2 separate regions of the Homo sapiens genome follow, and region 1 is linked to region 2. Evidence: fine-mapped expression QTL. Tissue or cell type: atrial appendage. Region 2 holds a variant in brackets; the other region holds the start of a gene. All regions are shown on one strand. Distances are from middle to middle.

Evidence for each region.
Region 1: it holds the start of ANGPTL1, and the variant in region 2 is fine-mapped to the expression of ANGPTL1 in atrial appendage (GTEx, PIP 0.96).

Annotation. Positions count from the first base shown.
Region 1 is chr1:178,866,088-178,875,980 of GRCh38, forward strand. It overlaps ANGPTL1 (angiopoietin like 1), which reads right to left and starts at 4,990. Exons shown (of 6, transcript NM_004673.4): 1 at 4,654-4,990; 2 at 3,027-3,136. The region is part of intron 8 of RALGPS2 (Ral GEF with PH domain and SH3 binding motif 2); the gene reads left to right.
Region 2 is chr1:178,927,842-178,937,734 of GRCh38, forward strand. LOC102724754 (a long non-coding RNA gene) reads right to left here. Exons shown (of 3, transcript XR_426873.4): 3 at 9,058-9,137. Among named protein-coding and RNA genes, the nearest start is that of ANGPTL1, 62 kb to the left of the region's middle. The variant G/GCGC (reference allele first, on the strand shown) is at 4,479.

The DNA of each region.
Region 1 (9,893 bases), 62 kb before region 2:
TCTGTGCAAAGATACGCTGCTAGTGCTGTTGAGGCTTTTGAGACCCTGATAAGATAGCTTTCTTACCTTTAAAAAGCTCACTGCCTTAAGACTATGAAAATGGTACACAGTGTTTGTAAGGCATTAATTAAAACATTCTTGCCTAACTAGTATTAAAATTACCAGGTGACTTTACTAGCCAATGTTTTAGATTCATACCATGCAATTCCAATTAAATTGATCCTCTGTAATAAATTATGTCATCTTCATTAAAATGTTCAATAAAGTTAAAGATTTTAGGGAAATCTAAACCCAGATAGTTTTAGCATCACATGCTTTTTATTTTTATAGCATCTCCTTTTGGGATTAGTGACAGGTTTTAGAATGATAGAATGCTCACAGTCATTGTGGGTAATTATATTTCCTGAACTGTAATTATATGTACTCTGAGCTTATAGATAATTCAGCAGGTTTGTTCTTCTAACAGAAGTCCTACTGAACTGTATTTTAGTAAAATGTTAGTAATTTTCTACAACCATTACCAAGGAAAGAAACTTGTCTGTAATTGAATATGAATGTCAGAGTTGGAAATGCCTTAGAGACCCTGTCATTCAAGAACCTCTTTGTACTCTGTGCATGTTGAAGGCTAAGGCCACACAAGGATTAGAACCAGGTCTAGATCGGATTCTCTGACCCATAGTCAGTATTTATAGAAGCAGCACCTATACTAAAATATGTGCTTAGAATGTTTCGTTTTTGCTGTAGCAGATGAGAAATACTTCTTTATAGTACAAATTCTTCTGAGGAAACAGTTTCAAGAGCCAAGACTTTTTCCTTTCTCTCTAGTTACCTCCCACAAGAGTAGCAGAAGTAGAATGGGTAAGGTATGTTCACTCTGTCAGATCTACTAACGAGCTGGTCTATTACAGGCCACCTTTTCACTCTTGCGAACTTCATACCTATCTGCCATTTTTGAAGGATGGCAGTGGATACCCTAAGACAGAGCTTTTCTGTCCAAATTTCCACATAAGTACCTGTTTCTTGATTTAAGAAACCAGCTCCTAAGTTGTTTATGCCTGTTGTTAATAACAACACAATAACAGTAATTAATATTTATTGAGTGCTTGTTCAGTGTTAGGCACTGTTTTAAGCCATTTTCATGTTTTACTTATCACCACAACCCTATGAAGTAGATTATTATGATCCCCACTTTCAGATGGAAAACTTGGCATCCAAAAGTTAAGTACCTTATTATCAAGAGTCACACAGGTTCATAGTGATGGAGCGAGAATTTGAATCCAGGCTGAAGACTTCAGAGTTCATGTTTTCAATCCCCTGTATTTATGTAGCTTAACACATGTTAACTATTTGCATTTATAACACTGAAGTAATGCTGTATCATTTTATAAAGGAGGAAAATCCTTGAGAAGCTAAATCACTCAAATGGGATTCAAACCTTCTACTCCTAACTTTTCTAGACCTATGATTTTTACCCTAGTCATGTCATAACCACAGAGGAGTCTTAAGTTTATGTTTCTTGTTTTTCGCTGCCTTTTCCTGGTTTATGTCCCTTTTCATTGACCGGTTACTTAATTATGCAAAAGTATTTATGGATAATTTTTGGTAGAATTTGTGTCCACGTTCTGCCAGATCATTTTTTTACATCTCAGACTCTTCTGCGGCAATTTCTTTCCTTCTGTATGTATTCTGTCAGCTGATAGTTATATATCTAACCTATGATTATGGACCCCTCCCGAAAACAAAGGTCATGTCAATGAAATATAACTCTTATGCTGTCGTCATGAAGACTACTGCTACTTTCACTTTCTAAAACCATGTTCCTTTTTTGGTATTTTTCAATTGAATAGTGTCTTCAAAATGGGTAGATAATGAAAATAAGGCAAATATAGATGGAGTATGGAGAATTATTATTATTTTACTAACAAGAGAGGGAATGAAAACAAAAGATAGGGAGGACATAACAATCTGTATTTCTATCGAGGCCTTCTTTTGCTGACTGATAGCCAAAGCACACATGGGTATTTTTTTTAGCTTTTTATGTTTTCATACCTTGCTTTCTGACATATATAGAAAATTTAGAAACAGTCATCTATTTTATTTTTAAAAATAGACTTTTACTATGTAGGAGTTACCTATACCAAAAACCAATAAAACATTTATTATATCTCCAGATTCGTGGAATTTAGATATGGGTTATTTTAAAAACTAGGGACAAGAAATAAAAGCCATCATCCTCCTGGGCACATGCATATCATTTTTCCTATATATTTAATTTAACTTACCACTGCTAAAGTCCATTCATTTTAATACTAGAATGGAAACTCTGAGATCATAAAATTATTTTACTTAAATAATATTTACTATGAAATAAACTACCAAAACAAGGAAAATGCAGGAAGTAATATAAAACTCTAAAACAAATAGAATTTTATGAGCAATATTCTGATTGAACAGCTTGTATTAATACCAGACACAGATTTTTATAAAACAGCTAAAAGCGCATCATCCAAGACTGCTGTTAGGACTTTGCATCAGTGTTGTCATTGAAGAACAAAAAACACCAAAATGCTAATCTAAATTAAAACAAAAACAGCTTCCTTGTGTGTATTCTGCCTTGGCTCATTGTGGTTCCTATAAGATTAAATCATAAGATAAATCACTGTTTACCATAAGAGAAAGTGGTCTAAATTAGCATTTAAAGGAGGCAACTAAAAGTTTAGTTTTTAAATAAATATAATTTTTTTTTAATAAATACAAAAGTATTGGCTTCACTGTCACTTAAAGCAGGGCAAGGAGCCACATTTCTTAAGTAGTAGACTAGCTACGTCAGGAGTAAAGAACTGGTTTTAAAAATACATTTACTGTTATGTTTTCTGAAAACATTCTCTTATTTAATATTTTCTCACATATGTTCAGTTTTGAAGCAAAAGATCCATAAATCTATGTTACCTCATAAAACTTTCTGTATATGTTAAAATTTTCCTAGGCCCCAAGAGAATGTTATAAATTAGTTATAGAATACTTACGTTTAAATTTAAGTCTTTACTTAGTTGTTTTTAGAAGAGAAAAAAAAGTCTTCTATGCGTTGGGTTAATTTTATTAGTAGCTTTTCTCTTCATAGTTGCTATATTGCCAGCTAGTAGAGAGAAGAAACGAAAGTCAGGATTTGCCTCCTTTCAGATGGTAAACTCACAGAGGCATTTAACTGGCTGTGTCATGCACTGAAAACAGCATGAGGCAATGAAGTTAAATTTATGAAGCATTCAGGATATGTTAGATAAAGAATTTCTAGATTGTGAAATATGTTCTGGGAAGAGACTTGAGAACAATCTAATCCCCTGGATATATTTAAGAAAAGGATAAATAGTTATCTGTGTAATTTGGGGTTCAGATTAAATGCCTGCCTTAAGACAGCGTCAGTAAGAACTGAGGCTTAATGAAGTCCTGCACTTCCCATAGCATGCAACAACAAAAAAGAGAGATGACAGTATTTCAGATCCACTGTTGCTTGGAAATTTTGTTAGAATTTCTTGTAAAATATGTGTTTAACAGAAATCCTGCCAGCATTTACAGTTTTAAATCTTTAAGGAAAGGACACAAAAGCAAAGTTGGAAAAAATTTTAGCTTTACCATTATTTGCTTGTTCAAGATTCTTAACCATTAATATCTTTAATTTTTACAAGGCTAAAGGAGCCCCAAATCTAACAAACTTAAGTGTCTTTGGTTTAAGGCATACTATTGGTAACGAGTAATTTTATCTTTAATAGTTTTTATAATGCATGTAAAAAAAGCTCCCAGATAGAATATTGAAGGAAACCTCTTATGTGTGCTTAACAAAATTATTTCTACCTAAAATATTACATATTTTTGGCCTTTTAGTCATGAATTTAATTACATCTTCTGGGTTCTTATTTTCTATTGTTAATACCACTTACATAATGCTTTTGTGTGTATATCAATAACTTAGCTTTTCCAAGTGATTCCATTTGTAGCAAGTTTAATTTCTGTCATCCAAATTAAATTACTATTACATGTAAGCCTGGAAAGCTATTTAAAATTTTGAGTTGGAACAAGAAATGCCATAGATTAATCTTAAATCTGTACAAGAATTTCTGCTTAATATTTGGTTATACTGTAATTGAGATTTTGTTGCAAAGACTTTCAACTATTTTTGTATCTTAGCTTTGTTTTATGACTACACTGAGAAATCCAACAGTTTATGTATATCTTCAGCACACACACTGTGGCTGCAGGAAGAGAAACTAATTGTGTTCACGACTATTTAGTTTGTATTCCTTTGTTTTTAATCATTGTGCTGTAAGCCTTATACATTTAATCTGTTACTTGTTAAAATTTCTTTCTACTGTCACTAAAGCACTTGTTTTCAGAAACCCAGCATGGCATGCATGTATCAGTCTGTAATCATATACACTAAACATCATTAAATTGAACCTCAAATAATGCATTAACCATTGCACAGTACTTAATGTTTTTATGTCAAGTTGCAAGATAAAACCTTTTTCAGATGAGATAAACTGTAGTATATTCCAAAGGTCTTTGTTTAGTAAAAGATTCTGAAATTTCTACTACAAATATAAAATAGTTATGCATTTGCTATACATAATATTTTTAAATAAAAGAAATATTAAATACCTTTTTGTGTCTGTTGATTCAGTGAATCCAGAAACTTGCTGCCCTTATTCTTGATTTTAAAAATCAGTGTAGAAGTTTGTTCATCTGTGACTTTAATGGCAGCTGCATTTTTGTTTTGGACCGTTGAATCCAAGCTGTAAGAAGGAACTTCTTTTTCCTTTTACAATACTAATCAATTGAATTTGACAAGCCACCTATGTAATTTTAAGTAGTATAGTGGAAGTTCTGGTCTGTGGGCCGTCTTTAATCCAGCAGAGAAAGCGTTGTGGCTTTGCTCTGTCTGCCACATGGAGAAATGCAGTAACCAGCTGCAGCTGACCCAGATTGTATATACAGTACCCCTGAATAGTGATTCCCTCTTTCTCAGTAGACTCAAGTTCAGCCCACATATTACATCACCAAAAATTGCTGGAGACTGGGGGCGGGAATCTCCTTAGGATTTCCTCTTTGTAGCCTTAAATAGGGGGGTGGGATCAGCAGGAGGTTGAATAGTTTTGAACAAGGAGAGATTGTGTGCAGGTTGAAGGAAGGGCACCATCTGGAAACAAACTATCATAGTTCAGCGGGCAATTATAAAACAAACATTTTAGTCTGCTGGCCAGAGATCTTTTAAGTTGAATACCGAAAAAAAAAATAGTGCTCCACTTCACTTAGAAGTAGTTGCAGGCTGATGAGTTTGGTTTTTGTTAACAAAGAACAAGAGCTAGACTTTGTCAGGAGGCAGCCACCTAAATAATGTAATAAATACTCTTTATAGCCTAGAAGAATTTGTAAACATTTTACTAAGTTGCTAATGAAGGTTTTAAACTTACAAGAAACTTGATGTTGTTGTAGTATGTTATGTCTTACTGTGTAATGTGTCTTAAGATAAAACAGCCTTTATATATAATTACCAAACATAAGTGAAATTCTTTCAGATGCTTAAGACTTTTAAATATTACATTCTGGTGTTACATAATGTCATATCCTCCTATTCTACAAAATGACCTCTCCTCTCTGTAAAAGGTCATTCTTGTTATTAATTGATGTGGTGTGGTTTAAAAACAAACATAACCCTGAACTGAGTAAAAAACAAGGAAGCTCTGACTCTATGCCAGCTATGTGAACTTAGACAAATCACTTTACCTGCCTCTGGCAAGGTTCTTCTGCTATGAAATAAGGTGGTGGAAGAAATGAATAAGTGTTGAGTACAACTATACTATTGTATTTCATTAATTGAAGAAATGTTAAATAACTCAGTAGCTGAAGAAACACAAACTTAGGCTTAAGTAACTTAGCTTAGCACTTAAGTACTAAGTAGTGGAACTGGGATTTGAATCTAATGCCAAAGCATTATGCCACACTCTCTGTCATTGATTACCTAGTTGCTGTAAGCTGCTTCTAGATAAAACTTTTGGGCTTTCTCTACATACCTGTGCTTTCCCTTCCTTATTGCTGTAGCTTGTGCTGTGTTTCTCTTTCTGTTAGGCCACACTGTTGATCCACATCCTTTATTTAAAGTCTGAGCTTATTTTCTACCTCTTTCACAGAATCATTTATTTGAATTCCTATGCCATATATAGGTATACCAGAGGTTGCAAACACAAGGGCCTAGAAAGGCAAATGCTCACAAGAAGAATGGAGCAGGTAATATAAATCAGTGAAGTAAATCAGTAGTAAGATACTGGAGGGAAATGAAGTTTATGGCAAGTTGGCATCCTTTTGGTTAATTTAAAGGGATCTGCCTGCACCTTCTCAGCTGTGCTTGTGGCCATGAAGGATTATGAGACAGTGTTGCCAGATCTTCCCATTATTCAGGAAAAAAGAGCCATTTAGATTTTTCCTGTAATACTTCCTGATTTTAAAAAACATTGGGACAGATGTGCTGCCAGCTTCTGGCCTCTGATTTGTATTATGTATCGTTTCTTGAGCATTCAGTAATTATGTTGTAGTCACTAATGGCTTAAATCTGGGAAAAATAAGAGATAATAAATTCTTTCTGAGCTTTTAAACTTTCAGCAGTTTGGAGCTTTCTAACTTGAGCACTTAGTAATATCACTAGCCAGGGTAGGAAATTGGAATGACAGGTATTTAGGGACAGATTATGGTTAGATATGTTAAATTGAAAATGAAAGTCAGGAGCTCAGTTATATGGAGAGATTTGAAAGTCACCAGCAATTAGGTAGTAGCTAAAGCTATGGAACTAAGATACTAGAGAAAGTACATGTAGAATGTAAAGGAAGGTTAATGACAGACCATGATACCAATTTCCAGGAAACCAGCTTACAAGAAACATGAGGAAAAAGAAGAATGGTGGGGGCTTAGGGGGAAGATACGAAAGTTCAAGGTAGGGAAAACCTGAGAACTAGACGAGAATGGTTACAATACTGCAGAGACATTACATAGGGAGGGGAGACCAAGAGAGATGTTTTAAGACTTAGAATGAGAAAGTTATTAATGCCATTGCCAAAATAAGTGATACATACAGATTTCAGATTATTTAGTGTGTTGAAGGGTGACTAGATAAAATTTAACTGACAAATTAGTGTCCACAATACATTAAGAAATTAGAAATCCATAAGAAAAAGACAACCCAAAAGAAAAAATGAACAGAAACATTTATTACATAGAAATATATACGTTTAACCTTATTACTAATCAAGGAAATAAAAATTAAGACACAGAGAGATACCATTTTATACTCAGAAGATTGGCAAAATTGAGATGGATAATACCAATTGTTAGCACAAATGTGGATCAACAGAAGCTTATATACCGTGAGTGGGAGTATGAATTGATACAGCTTTGAAAAATAATGTGACACCATCTTGTAAAGTTGAATATTAATATACTTTAGCACTTGGCAGTTTTGCTCCTAGGCATGTTTGTATATCCTGAAGAAATTTTGTACATGTGTACTGGGAGATGTGTATAAGAATGTCTATAGCAACATGGTTGGGGGTGGGATGGGAGTAACTCAAAAGTCTATCAAATAAAATGGATGAGTTACAATTGTCACACATTAGCTTGTTCTCATTATAAGGAATTACAGCAGCATTTAACAGCGTGGACAAGTCTTAGAAACAAAATAGACGAAGCAACCACAGAAGACCATATTTTTAAATTTTATTTAATAAATGCTTATAAATCACTTGGTATGTACTAGACACTTTTTTTTTGAGACGGAGTCTTGCTCTGTCACCCAAGCGGGAGTGCAGTGGTACGATCTCGGCTCACTACAAGCTCCGCCTCCTGGGTTCTCGCCATTCTCCTGCCTCAGCCTCCCATACTAGACACTTTTCTAACATTACAAATACTATTATTTAATCCACACATACAATAAAATATGATTTTTAAAGCTCAAAAATAGGCAAAAGTAGGAATACAGACAAATGTCGGGGAAAAAATAAGGGAATGATCTTAAAGTTCAAGGTAATGGTTACTTCTGGACAGGAAGCAAGGAGATGAAGTAGAGAAGGAACATACAGATAGATGCAACAGTATTGATGATGTCGTAGTTCTTTTTTAAAGTAGTTTACCCCAACATATTAAAATATTAACATGTAACCAATAAAAAAGTTAATAGATATTTTACATTAATTTTTCATGTTAACTCTTCAAAATCTTGTCTATTTTATATTCAAATACACCTCAATTCAGAATAGACCCACGAAACAGTAGTCACATGTGGCAAGTGGTTATATTGGACAGCACAGTATAGCGAGTGACTACAGGCGAGTTGTCATCTGAGTTTAATAAGATGGAAGAATGGCAAGAACTGGCACATTAGTACCCCGCTCAAATCCCACTTCTTCCTTGAAGCTTTCTCTGATCCCATCAGCAAGGAATGACATTTTTTTGCACAGAATTCTTATGAAACTCCTGTTTAAACTTTTCTGTGCTACTTTTTTATATCTTCTATTGCTGTTATTGATGTACATATGCCAACATCCCCGTGCCATTTCCTTGAGGAATCTTTTAGCTCTCCTTAGGGATGTTGTAGTCATAAGTTGACTGGTCTTTCACAAATGTTTATTATGTTGTTTGATAACAACAAGTGTCACATGTGTTGATAATTTTTTCTTAGGGCAGGAGTCTCACCATGTTGCCCAGACTGGTCTCAAACTCCTAAGCAGTCTGCCCGCCTCAGCCTCCCGAAGTGCTGAGATTACAGGCATGAGCCACCGTTCCCGGCAATAATTTTTGTGAAATCACGATTCTCACACAAATATGAAATGAATATGTGTCAGAATTTTCATTTAAATTATTAAATTTATAAGGGAATCAAAAATGTGTCAAGGGAGAATTCAAAGTAACACACATATATGCAATCAGGAACGCTGAAGTAAATTTACAAATAGTTGCAAAATTGGTCATCACTGATTAGATCCCACTGGACATAATTCTTTGGCATGTTTATGGACAATAATTTGTATTACCAGTTTTCAACAGCTGTGCAGAGTTGTAAAATAGCTCAGAAGGACCAAATGGGTGCACTGGAGACAGGATACCCAGTAATCTTTTTTCCCATCTCAAAGTTTTTCACAATTTTCCTGACACATGTGTATCAAATATTACATTAAAAATAGAACGAAGAATAAAAGAAGTGTACTATTGTATGTTTCTCTTCCAAGGTGTTTGTTGAAGGGAGGACAAGGATGTTATCTTGAGGCGTGGGATCAGATTTGAAGGAAGAGTTGCTTAGATTTTGTTTTATAAGTAGGGGAGATTTAAACATGTATATTGGGCCAGGTGCAGTGGCTCATGCCTGTAATCCTAGCACTTTGGGAGGCTGAGGCGGGTGGATCACTTGAGACCAGGAGTTCGAGACCAGCCTGGCCAACATGGTGAAACCCCATCTCTACTAAAAATGCAAGAACTACCCAGGCGTGGTTGCGCATGCCTGTCATCTCAGCTATTCGGGTGGCTGAGGCACAAGAATCACTTGAACCCAGAAGGCAGAGGTGGCAGTGAGCCGAGATCGCACCACTGCATTCCAGCCTGTGACAGAGCAAGACTCTTTCTTGAAAAAAAAAATGGTTTAAAAAAAAATATGTATACTGGCTCTGGGGAAGGAGCCAGTAGGGGTGAATGATAGTAGAGGCAACAGTGGTTGTCTGGAAGGAGGCAGCAACGATTGCATTCAAAATTACAGTTGAGATTTCGGAAGAAGAGAGAGATGATTCTTCCTCCAAGATTGGGGAAAGTGGGAAGAACCTCAGCTTCATTTGGAACCTCAAGATTCATTTGGAGTCATAGGG
Region 2 (9,893 bases):
GGGGGTGGTTGGTTTGGGTTTTTGTTTTGAGACAGAGTCTCGCTCTGTCACCCAGGCTGCACTGCCGTGGCACTATCTTGGCTCACTGAAACCTCCATCTCCCAGGTTCAAGAGATTCTCATGCCTCGGCCTCCCGAGTAGCTGGGATTACAGGTGCACACTACCATGCCCAGCTAATTTTTGCATTTTTAGTAAAGACAGGGTTTCACCATGTTGGCCAGACTGGTCTCAAACTCCTGGCCTCAAGCGATCCGCCCACCTTGACCTCCCAAAGTGTTGGAGTACAGGCATGAGCCACCACAATGGCCTTGTTTTGTTTTGTTTTTATAGAGACAGGGAGTTGCCATGTTGTCCAGACTGATCTTGGCCTCAAGTGATCCTCCCGCCTTGGCCTTCCAAAGTGCCAGGATTACACACATGAGCCACTGCGCCCAGCCTATTGTTGATTATTAAGAGGAGTATTTCAGCCACATGGGTTAGATTGCTGGAGGCCCTTGTATAAAATGCAGACTTCTGAATGCCACCCCACCAGCCAAATCAGAATCTGAGGCCAGAGTCTGCTGCACACTAAAATGTGCACCTGATTTGCCCACAGCCCAAGTTAAACTAGAAGTAACAGTTGCTGAATTTGCTTTATTATTGCCTGATTGTCAGACCCAAGCTTTTCAGAAACCATTGGCATCTGTGTTAAGCTGTTGTGGGAGAAAGACAGACAAGCAAGTCGTCATTTTTATTGCCAGAAACTATTCTGAGATTTTAATGTGAAAAGTGGAAATTTTTTAATTGAGTTAGAAGAAAAACCTGGAGATTCGTGAACAATTAACAATAGGTGCAATCAATGAACCCCCTGCCAGCCGTTAAGCCTTCTAGTAGCCATGTTTTATGACTTTATGTAACCTAAATCATGTTTTAACAAATTTTAACCACAAAAGCATGGGGTTAGTATTTCCATTTTAAAAGAGAAATGACTACACTTTTGAGGGTGATTGTATCTCCCTGGATCTTTGAATTAGCCTAAGAAAATATCCAAATATGGCCTGGTGCAATTTGAATTGAGACCTCTGATTCTAGACTAACTTGCTAGGGTACAGTTAATGAAGTTCTGTCTCATTCCAAATCAAAATACTGTACTGCACTTGAGTAACAAATTCTATGTGCTTCCTTGCTTTTACTTAAAACTGATTCCCCTCTTAAAGGAAAACTCATTTCTGTCTCTCTGTTTTTCCTTCTCTAAAAGGAGCCTTTTATTCTGTGTTCATATTGGTTAAAGTAGTCTCCGAGTGCCCTTTGTTATTTGAGCTGCCTGGTAGCAGGAGGGCTTCTGCAGTCATGGGACTTTCCCAGGGGCACATCTTACTATTGTTTGAAAGTGACATGAGGTTCCCTGTTACAGCACAAGCTTATTTTACCCACTCCCTCTCTCTGAACTCACAGAAAAGGGAAAAGGACAGTTAGGAGAACATATCAAATGATGAGAGTGTTTCATAACATACTGAGCTGTGCATTTTGAAGCAGTAAAGAGGATTTTTCCAGTAACACTAATCCACAGCAATTTAGAAACCATCAGTACATACACCTGTTCCTGAAGGCAGTCATGAGCTTTCCAGGCTCCTTTAAATATGGAAGAGAAATACCTCCAGTAGTGCCTAAACCAAATAATCTCTCTTCCCTTATACTTCTATTGTTAGAGTTTAATCTTTCATGTTAGCCTTTTTTTTTTCATTTTTTGTCAGTGTGCATCTCACTTTTGGATTTCCACTTAATCTTTCATTTGTTTACAGTGCAGTTGTCTCCCTTCATATTTTATTTAGATCAGTGGTTCTTAAGTTTGGCTGCAATTTAGAATCACCTAGCGAGTTTTTAAAAGTCCCAGTTCTCAGGCTGCACACCAGACCAATTCTATCAGAATCTGTGGGTGGGAGGCCAGGCTAGGATCCAGGCATTAACAATTTTTGAAAGCTCCCCCAGGTGACCTGAATATCTAGCTCAGGTTGAGAACCAATATTTAGATTGTTGGTCTATAAGCATTACAGAGACTTTTGAACAGTGGTCCTCAAACTTTAGAGGGCAACAGAATCCCTGGAGGACTTATTAAAACACATAAATTAAAAATTGGATTAGAAAGGGAAGCATCAGAGGATCCATCCTGAGCTCTGCGTGAATGTGAATGGGGTCCCTTCGATATCATGATTATATGAGTTGGGGGATGGGAGGGCACAAAAGAAGACACCACCCAACCCTTAGGAAGCTCAGGATCTTGCAAAGGAGGTAGAGCTCACACCTGGGCAGCAGCAAGTTTTCTGAGCAGCCATGAAGCAGCAGAGAGAGCCTGGGGCTGACAATGCCTTTACTCCCATTCTGTCAGAGGTGTTTGAACCAGAGCAACTCCATCTTGAGTAGGGGCTGGGTAAAATGAGACCTACTGGTCATCTGCATTCCCAGATGGTTAAGGCATTCTAAATCACAGGATGAGATAGGGAGTCGGCACAAGATACAGGCCATAAAGACCTTGCTTGTAAAACAGGTTGTAGTAAAGAAGCCAGCCAAGACCCACCAAAAGCAAGATGGCCATGAGAGTGACCTTTGGTCATCCGCACTGCTACACTCCCACCAGCGCCATGGGAGCTTACAAATGCCATGGCAATGTTAGGAAGTTACTCTATATGGTCTAAAAAGGGGAGGCATGAATAACGAATAATCCACCCCTTGTTTAGCATATCATCAAGAAATAACCATAAAAATGGGCAACCAGCAGCCCTCGGGGCTGCTCTGTCTATGGAGTAGCCATTCTTTATTCCTCTACTTTCTTAGTAAACTTGCTTTCACTTTACTCTGTGGACTGGCCCTGCATTCTTTATTGCACAAGATCCAAGGGCCCTCTCTTGGGGTCTGGATCAGGACCCCTTTCCTGTAACAGTTCCATCTGGGGCAGATCACCTAACCTCCCCTGAAGTTCCATGCTGACTTCTGCAAAATTGGAACATTAACAGTGTTTTGACTGCTTGCAACAGTGTAGTTACTCGCAAAAGGATTATTTGAAAACATCCATAATTCCCTTTCCCCCTCCCTAACAATAACAAAATATTTTGAAACTACAAAAAGAAAAAATGGTTTTGTATTTGAATGTGTTAAATAGGGCCATTTCCTCTCCAGTTCACTACAGTCCCCACCACTCACTATAGCCTTCTTTTTTTTTTTTTTTTTCACTCTTGTTGACCAGGCTGGAGTGCAATGGCACGATCGCAGCTCACTGCAACCTCCACCTCCCGGGTTCAAGTGATTCTTCTGCCTCAGCATCCTGAGTAGCTGAGATTACAGGCATGCAGCACCACACCTGGCTAATTTTTGTATTTTTAGTAGAGACGAGGTTTCACCATGTTGGTCAGGCTGGTCTCGAACTCCTGAGCTCAGATGATCCACCCGCCTCAGCCTCCCGAAGTGCTGGGATGACAGGCATGGGCCACCGCACCCGGCCCCTATAGTCTTTTGACTGATGTTTCTTTACCAACTCAGGTGTTGTCATGTGATGCCTAGAACTGGGCATCCCATCTTATGACCAAGATAAAGGCTGGCCCTTGAGCAAAGCTGGTCCTCAGAGAACAGAAGGGAAAGATGGAAAGAACCTAGCCCCATAATGATTTTCTTGTGCTACTGAACTAACCCTACAAGAGCCTTACTTCTGGACTTTTAAGAAAGAAAAAAGAAAAATGGGAGAAAGATAGGGAAGAAGAAAAAAGGAGAGAAAGGAGAAAAAAGAGAGGAGAGGGAGGGAGGAAAGAAGGAGGGAAAAAGAGGAAGAAGAAAGGGGGAAAAACATCAGCCACCTTTAAGAATTTTACATGTGCTGGTAAGAAATAATATAGCTTAAAAAATAGATTTCTGCTTGTGTAGCCCAATTTATTAATTTTTAAAACTATGATCAGATGGTATTGATTAGTGGTCTCAAAATAAGGGAGAGAAACACCTATTTCTTGTGTTATTTTTTATTAAAGCAGGGAACAAATGGGACCTTCACAGTCCTTAAAGATGAAATACCCCCAAACCAAACCAGAGTTCACTGGCAAAGCAAAGCAGTGTCCTTACATCTCGGAGGGCCCTGACCCGCCTCTGTCCCGAACCCCACCAGCAGCGGCTCTGCTAGAAAGGGAACATTTTGTTCCTTTATTGTGGTAAACCAGACCCAGGGCCCCGCTGGTTCTCAAGTCAGCTGTGAAGCTGACACACTGCCTCTCAGGGTCAGTTTGGCCCCCACAGCAGGCCCTGGGGAAGCAGCCACGCCCTCAGCTCCCTTGGGGCCCTGTCTTCCATTCCTTAACAGGACCAGCTTCTTCAGAGACTCTGGACTCTCATAAACGTTGAAGCCAGATTGTTTCCCTCTTTGCTTTTGTTTTGATGTATTTTTAAATAATTAGGCTTTTACTCTCAAGTATTTTCATTCTCCATCACTGGCTGAGGGGCAGCTCTCACACCACACTAGG[G/GCGC]CAAGGCATGCTACTATGGTATCCAGTAAACAGTTGCCAAACAAAGTCAAAAGTTCTCTTTGGCCAAAGCCAAAATCAAGTTCTCTTTTGTACTTGTTGTTCTTCCATCTGCCCTGAGCTATGTCATAGCTGTCAAAATATGTCACCCCCTGCACCTCCGTGCAGGGTTTAAGAAAAGCAGCTCCTTGGACTTTTGCCAGCGACTTTCTTGCAACATCTTAATTATCCATTTTTTGCTTAGCAAGTAAGTCTAGAAAGAACTGCTTCTTTTATTCTTGGAAAGTAAGTACTTGGGAATGTTCAATGAAAACCAGTATGTGCTGAACTCCTGCTCTGTGCTAGGTTCTGGGGAAGGGGAGGCAGTCCCTGACCAAGGGGATCTCACAGTCAGTGAGGAGAGTGTCCCCTGAGGTCGCTGGGAAGAAGCAACACATTTCCCTGTCCAGTGGCAACTACCTCCTCATCACCTAATCCCTGCGCCCGGAGCACAAACTCATCCTAAGCAAAGGCAACTGAGCAGCTGTTTTCCTGTTCACCCCACCTCAGGTCCTCACTACTTTCCTACCGATACCATTCTAAGTTCCCAACGCATTTTGTGAAAGTAAGTCAGTTTGATTCATCATATAGTCATTGGTTCTGATGTTGTGGTTCTAAGCTTATTTTATACATTGTTATCTAATTTATTCTTTCTTAACAACCCTGTATAGTAGAGATACTTCTTCTTGAATTACAACCAGAAAATTTGGAGAGGTTGAAGAACTTGCCTACAGTCACCCAGTAAGGAGGTGGAGCCAGGATTCAAACTCTGGTCTGATTCTCGGCCCTGGTGGACACTGGCTTTCAGAGCTGTAACTTGCAGTTTTGGTGCCCAGAACCTGCAGCACAAAAGCTCCGCAAATGACTTTGTGATTTATTATGAAACTCAAAGAAAGAACAAGCTTCCTACTTTAATTTTCCTTGCTAATGACAGTTTTCAGCTGAAGAAATCCATGTGCTGTCAACATGTAAATATAACCTTTTTTTTTTTCCAATGTCTGTTCCCGGGACAGAGCCTCCCAGTAGGCCTTGCACTGTGCTGCATGTGGTCCCTGGAGTTTTACAGCCTCACTACAGACACAAAACAGAGTGGTTAACACAAGCAATCCTGAATTGCATAAATGTGCTGGATGCCCATGCTAGACTAAGAAAGTTCTTCGTATTCAGGAGAAACACTGTGGCCCTGAGAGGCCAGGGAAGGCCACGTGGAAGAGGAGAGTCCATGGGTGGGTAGGATTTAGGACCAGGGGAGAAGAATTGCAAGCAAGAGCTGGAAATATACAGTTGAGGCTGGGAAGAGCTCACACTGAGAAGTGGCAACACATAAAGTTGGAAAAGTAGGTTGGAGCCAAATTGCTCAGGATTTTAAGTGCCAGAAGGAGGAATTGGAGAATGGAAGCTGGGAGACCAGGCAGGAAACAGCTGTTCTCCAGGAGAGAGAGAGCAAGGGTCTGTCCCAAAGTGGGAGCACAGGTAGGAAACAATTGAGAGGCATTTTGAAGGATGAAGGCTCCTCTGTCTCCTGTGCCCAGGAGCCCTGCCCTCTGCTAGGCTCTGGGACTAGTAATGCTGATTAACTGATCTGCCAGTGGATGCATTGGCCCTCCCTGATGACCCGGCACCCTTCTTGGAGAAGAGTGGGACTCTGGCCCCCTATCCCTCCATGTTCAATTGCCCACATCACTCAACTCTTCCTGTCCACCACACTTACCCTCCCAAGTGTATTTCCTCATCTGCAAAAACAGCATGAGAAAGCTCCTCCTTCCTAAGTTTATTGTGAGGTTGAATAAGGTCATGCGTGGAAGATGCAAAGCACAGGGCCTGGCGCTTGTAACCGCTCAGCAGATGGGAACCGCCAGCATAAATATTCTGCACCCTTGGTCAGCTGGGACCCATTATTGAGAGTGGCTATTCTCGTCTCTCTCTATGAAATGTTAGACACTAGCAGACAGCTGAAGGTGAAATCAAGCAAGTTTGAACTGTGGTCTCTCTCTGGGGCTCCTTGTCAGGTAAGTTGGACATAAGCAACTTCCTAACAAAAGAGCCAGAAGTTGTTTCATTCTGACAGTGAAGCATGACTTCATAGTTTCTTATTCTATAAGTTGTACAGACAGACTTTTCTTCCTTTTTGTGTTTATGCCATGATGTCTTGGAGCCAAGCTATAGCAGAGCCCCTGGATAGGAATTTAGGATGCTTTTGGACCCCTTCCATAGAGGTCAAGTCCTGGGAATACTGGAAGGGCCTTCACACAAGAGCTCCCTCATCCCATCCCTGTATGTCTTGGACATAGAAAGAGAGGAGGAACTGACATTTAACGACAATGTGCTGTGGCTTTGACACGTGTCATGTTATGTAACCCTCACACCAGTCCTATGAGATAGGGATTGTTATCTGCACTGTTGTAAGTAAGGAAATAGTCTTGATTGAAGGGCCTTACCCAAACTCACACATCTAGTCATCACTGCAACCAACATTCTGCCTCTTGGTGCCCCTCGCTGAAGCTCCTTATTTCCTGCATACTCTCCTCCTCCCAGGGCTGCTGAGGCCACATGGTAAGCCTACTGCTGCTGTTCCTATGAGTTTCCTTTTTCAATGTGTTTTTTAGGAGACGAGGCCTCACTGTGTTGCACCACCTGGAGTGCCATGGCTATTCACAGGCACAATTGTAGCTTACTACAGACATGAACTCCTAGGCTCAAGTAATCCTCTTGCCTCAGCCACTCGAGTGCAGGGACTACAGGTGTGTGCCACCATGCCTGGCCTGTTACCATGACTTTCCAATTCAGCAAATTTTCTGTAATAGGATGATTGAGAGGTTTGTAGTTCCATAATGGTGGCTGGCTATAATGATTACCTATAACTATATAATTGGGAATAAACTGAAACAGGTGCAAACTCTAATCAGCCCCAAATAACATCTTAATGACAAGTAGAGGACAAATTAAATGGAAGCAAAGTCGTAGGACAGAGTACAGAAAAGCATGGTGACAGGAGTTTCTTGTCTGTCTCTAAGGAAGTAGGATGGGATGGAGAGTCAATTCAATTTAGACAGAAGCTGAAGATCAAACAACAGAACATTTTAGCTTCTATTTTAACTATGTATTTTACAGCTGGATTCCAAAGAAGATAAATAAATTATATTTGCACCTATCATCTTTTCAAATATCTTTGCCAACAAAGTCATTCAATATATTGAGTGTCCCTGTGGTCAAGATCTTACACATTTAATGTATGAAAGAGGAGAGACAAGGCCCTGCAGCAGAAAATCTCACAATTTGAGGGAGAAGAAATGGGAGCAAGGAGTTGTTTAAGAAAGACAAAATACATACAAAGTAATGTGTCCGCAAGTGGGAGCCATGATAGCTGTGGGTGTGGAGTTGCCACATGATGATGTTCCATGGCTGGCTGCCTGATCAAGCGGAGCCTCAAAGGTCATCTGTGGCTTGGTAGAGGCCTGGGTCCAGATCGGGCCCTTAACTTTTAAGTTTCAGAAACCCCATGTTGTAATCAGCCCACACAACGTTGACCAGGCCTCAAGGAATGGACTCTTGCCAACCAAACTCCCATAGTAGACTGACGGGAAAACCAGCATGCCAGTTGAAGTAATGTACCATCAGAGACACACCTTTCTAATTACTATGCAGGGGACCCCTTTCTGCTGTGTACCAGAAAAACTGAATTAGCATTTAGAAAACTACTTGTTAAACAGGAATCAGGGTAAAAGAAGTCTTCAGGAGTGTGTGGCTCAGATCGTTGGTACAGTCTGGAACATTTTTGCCATTCCCTGACACCCCTGGGGAAACACTAGCTAGATTCTTACTCTTCACCTCTCTTCTTCTAGGCTCCTTACAGACTCTTTCATGCCTTTAATTATCTTTACTTCTCATCAAATAACATGACTTATTACAACTTACCTTGTCATTACTTTTTGTAATTTAATCTTCCAATAAACTTTGGGTATCTAATCTTGATGTAGCAAACCATGAAATCCTCAGCAATATGTTTGCAAAACCACCCCAAGGATGGGTTGCATCTGCAAGTGTTTAATCTCAATTTATATTGTGAAGATTCTTATGGCTTCCCCTTCAAATCCCGACACCCTTTGACCTTGTCCCCAAATTCCAGAGGTGCTATTATCCATACAGACATATGTTATAGATTCCAGAAGTGCTAGAAGATTCTGGAAGATAAGAGGAACTGAATTTATATTGCTCTGAAACAGGATGCACAGAAAAGCAAGTCTCACACCACTCCTCTTTCATGTCTGATGCAGCACAAGTGTATAGACAGCTCATCCCTGGAGCTCATGATAACAGAGTTCCTTCTAGCCTACTTCAGTTGTAGTCAGCCCTAGCTACTATAACAAAATACCATAGACTGGGTGGTTTAAACAACACACATTTATTTCTCACAGTCCTGGAGGCTAGAAAATCCAACATCAAGATACCAGCAGATTCTGTTTGGGTGAGGGCTCTTGGCTTGCAGACAGCCACCTTCTCACTGTATCCTCACGTGGTGGGGAGAGTGAGCTCTGGTCTCTTCCTCTTCTTATAAGGACACTAATCCAGTAATGGAGGTCCCACCTTCATGCTCTCATTTAAATCTGCCAGAGGCACCACCTCCTAATAAATACCATCACACTGGGGGTTAGGGCTTCAGTATATGAATGGCAGGGGCACATTCAGTCCATAGCAAATGCCCACCAGGTTCTGCTATACCAGATATTTTCTATTAAGTGGAGAAACTGTAGATAGTTTTCTTTTTTTTTTTTTTTTTTTTTTTTTGAGACGGAGTCTCGCTCTGTCGCCCAGGCCGGACTGCGGACTGCAGTGGCGCAATCTCGGCTCACTGCAAGCTCTGCTTCCCGGGTTCACGCCATTCTCCTGCCTCAGCCTCCCGAGTAGCTGGGACTACAGGCGCCCGCCACCGCGCCTGGCTAATTTTTTGTATTTTTAGTAGAGACGGGGTTTCACCTTGTTAGCCAGGATGGTCTCGATCTCCTGACCTCATGATCCACCCGCCTCGGCCTCCCAAAGTGCTGGGATTACAGGCGTGAGCCACCGCGCCTGGCCAACCGTAGATAGTTTTCAGTACACATACAACCATTTTGGTTTTGGGGGCCCAAACAAAAGGTGGTACAGAAAGTTTGTTTTCTAACCAGCTTATTAAATGAGTTTCAAGTACAGAGTAAAGAAAATTAATGTAACTAAATCTTGGGACATGATTTTACTGAGGATTGTCCAGGGTCTTTTGAGGCCGCAATTAGAGATGAGACCAGACCTTTCCATTCCTCATCTGCTCTGCTGGACTCCAGAGCACTGCCTTCCTCCAAAAAGGAAAATTAGAAACAAATTCTCAAGTGGTTTGATAGTAATTCA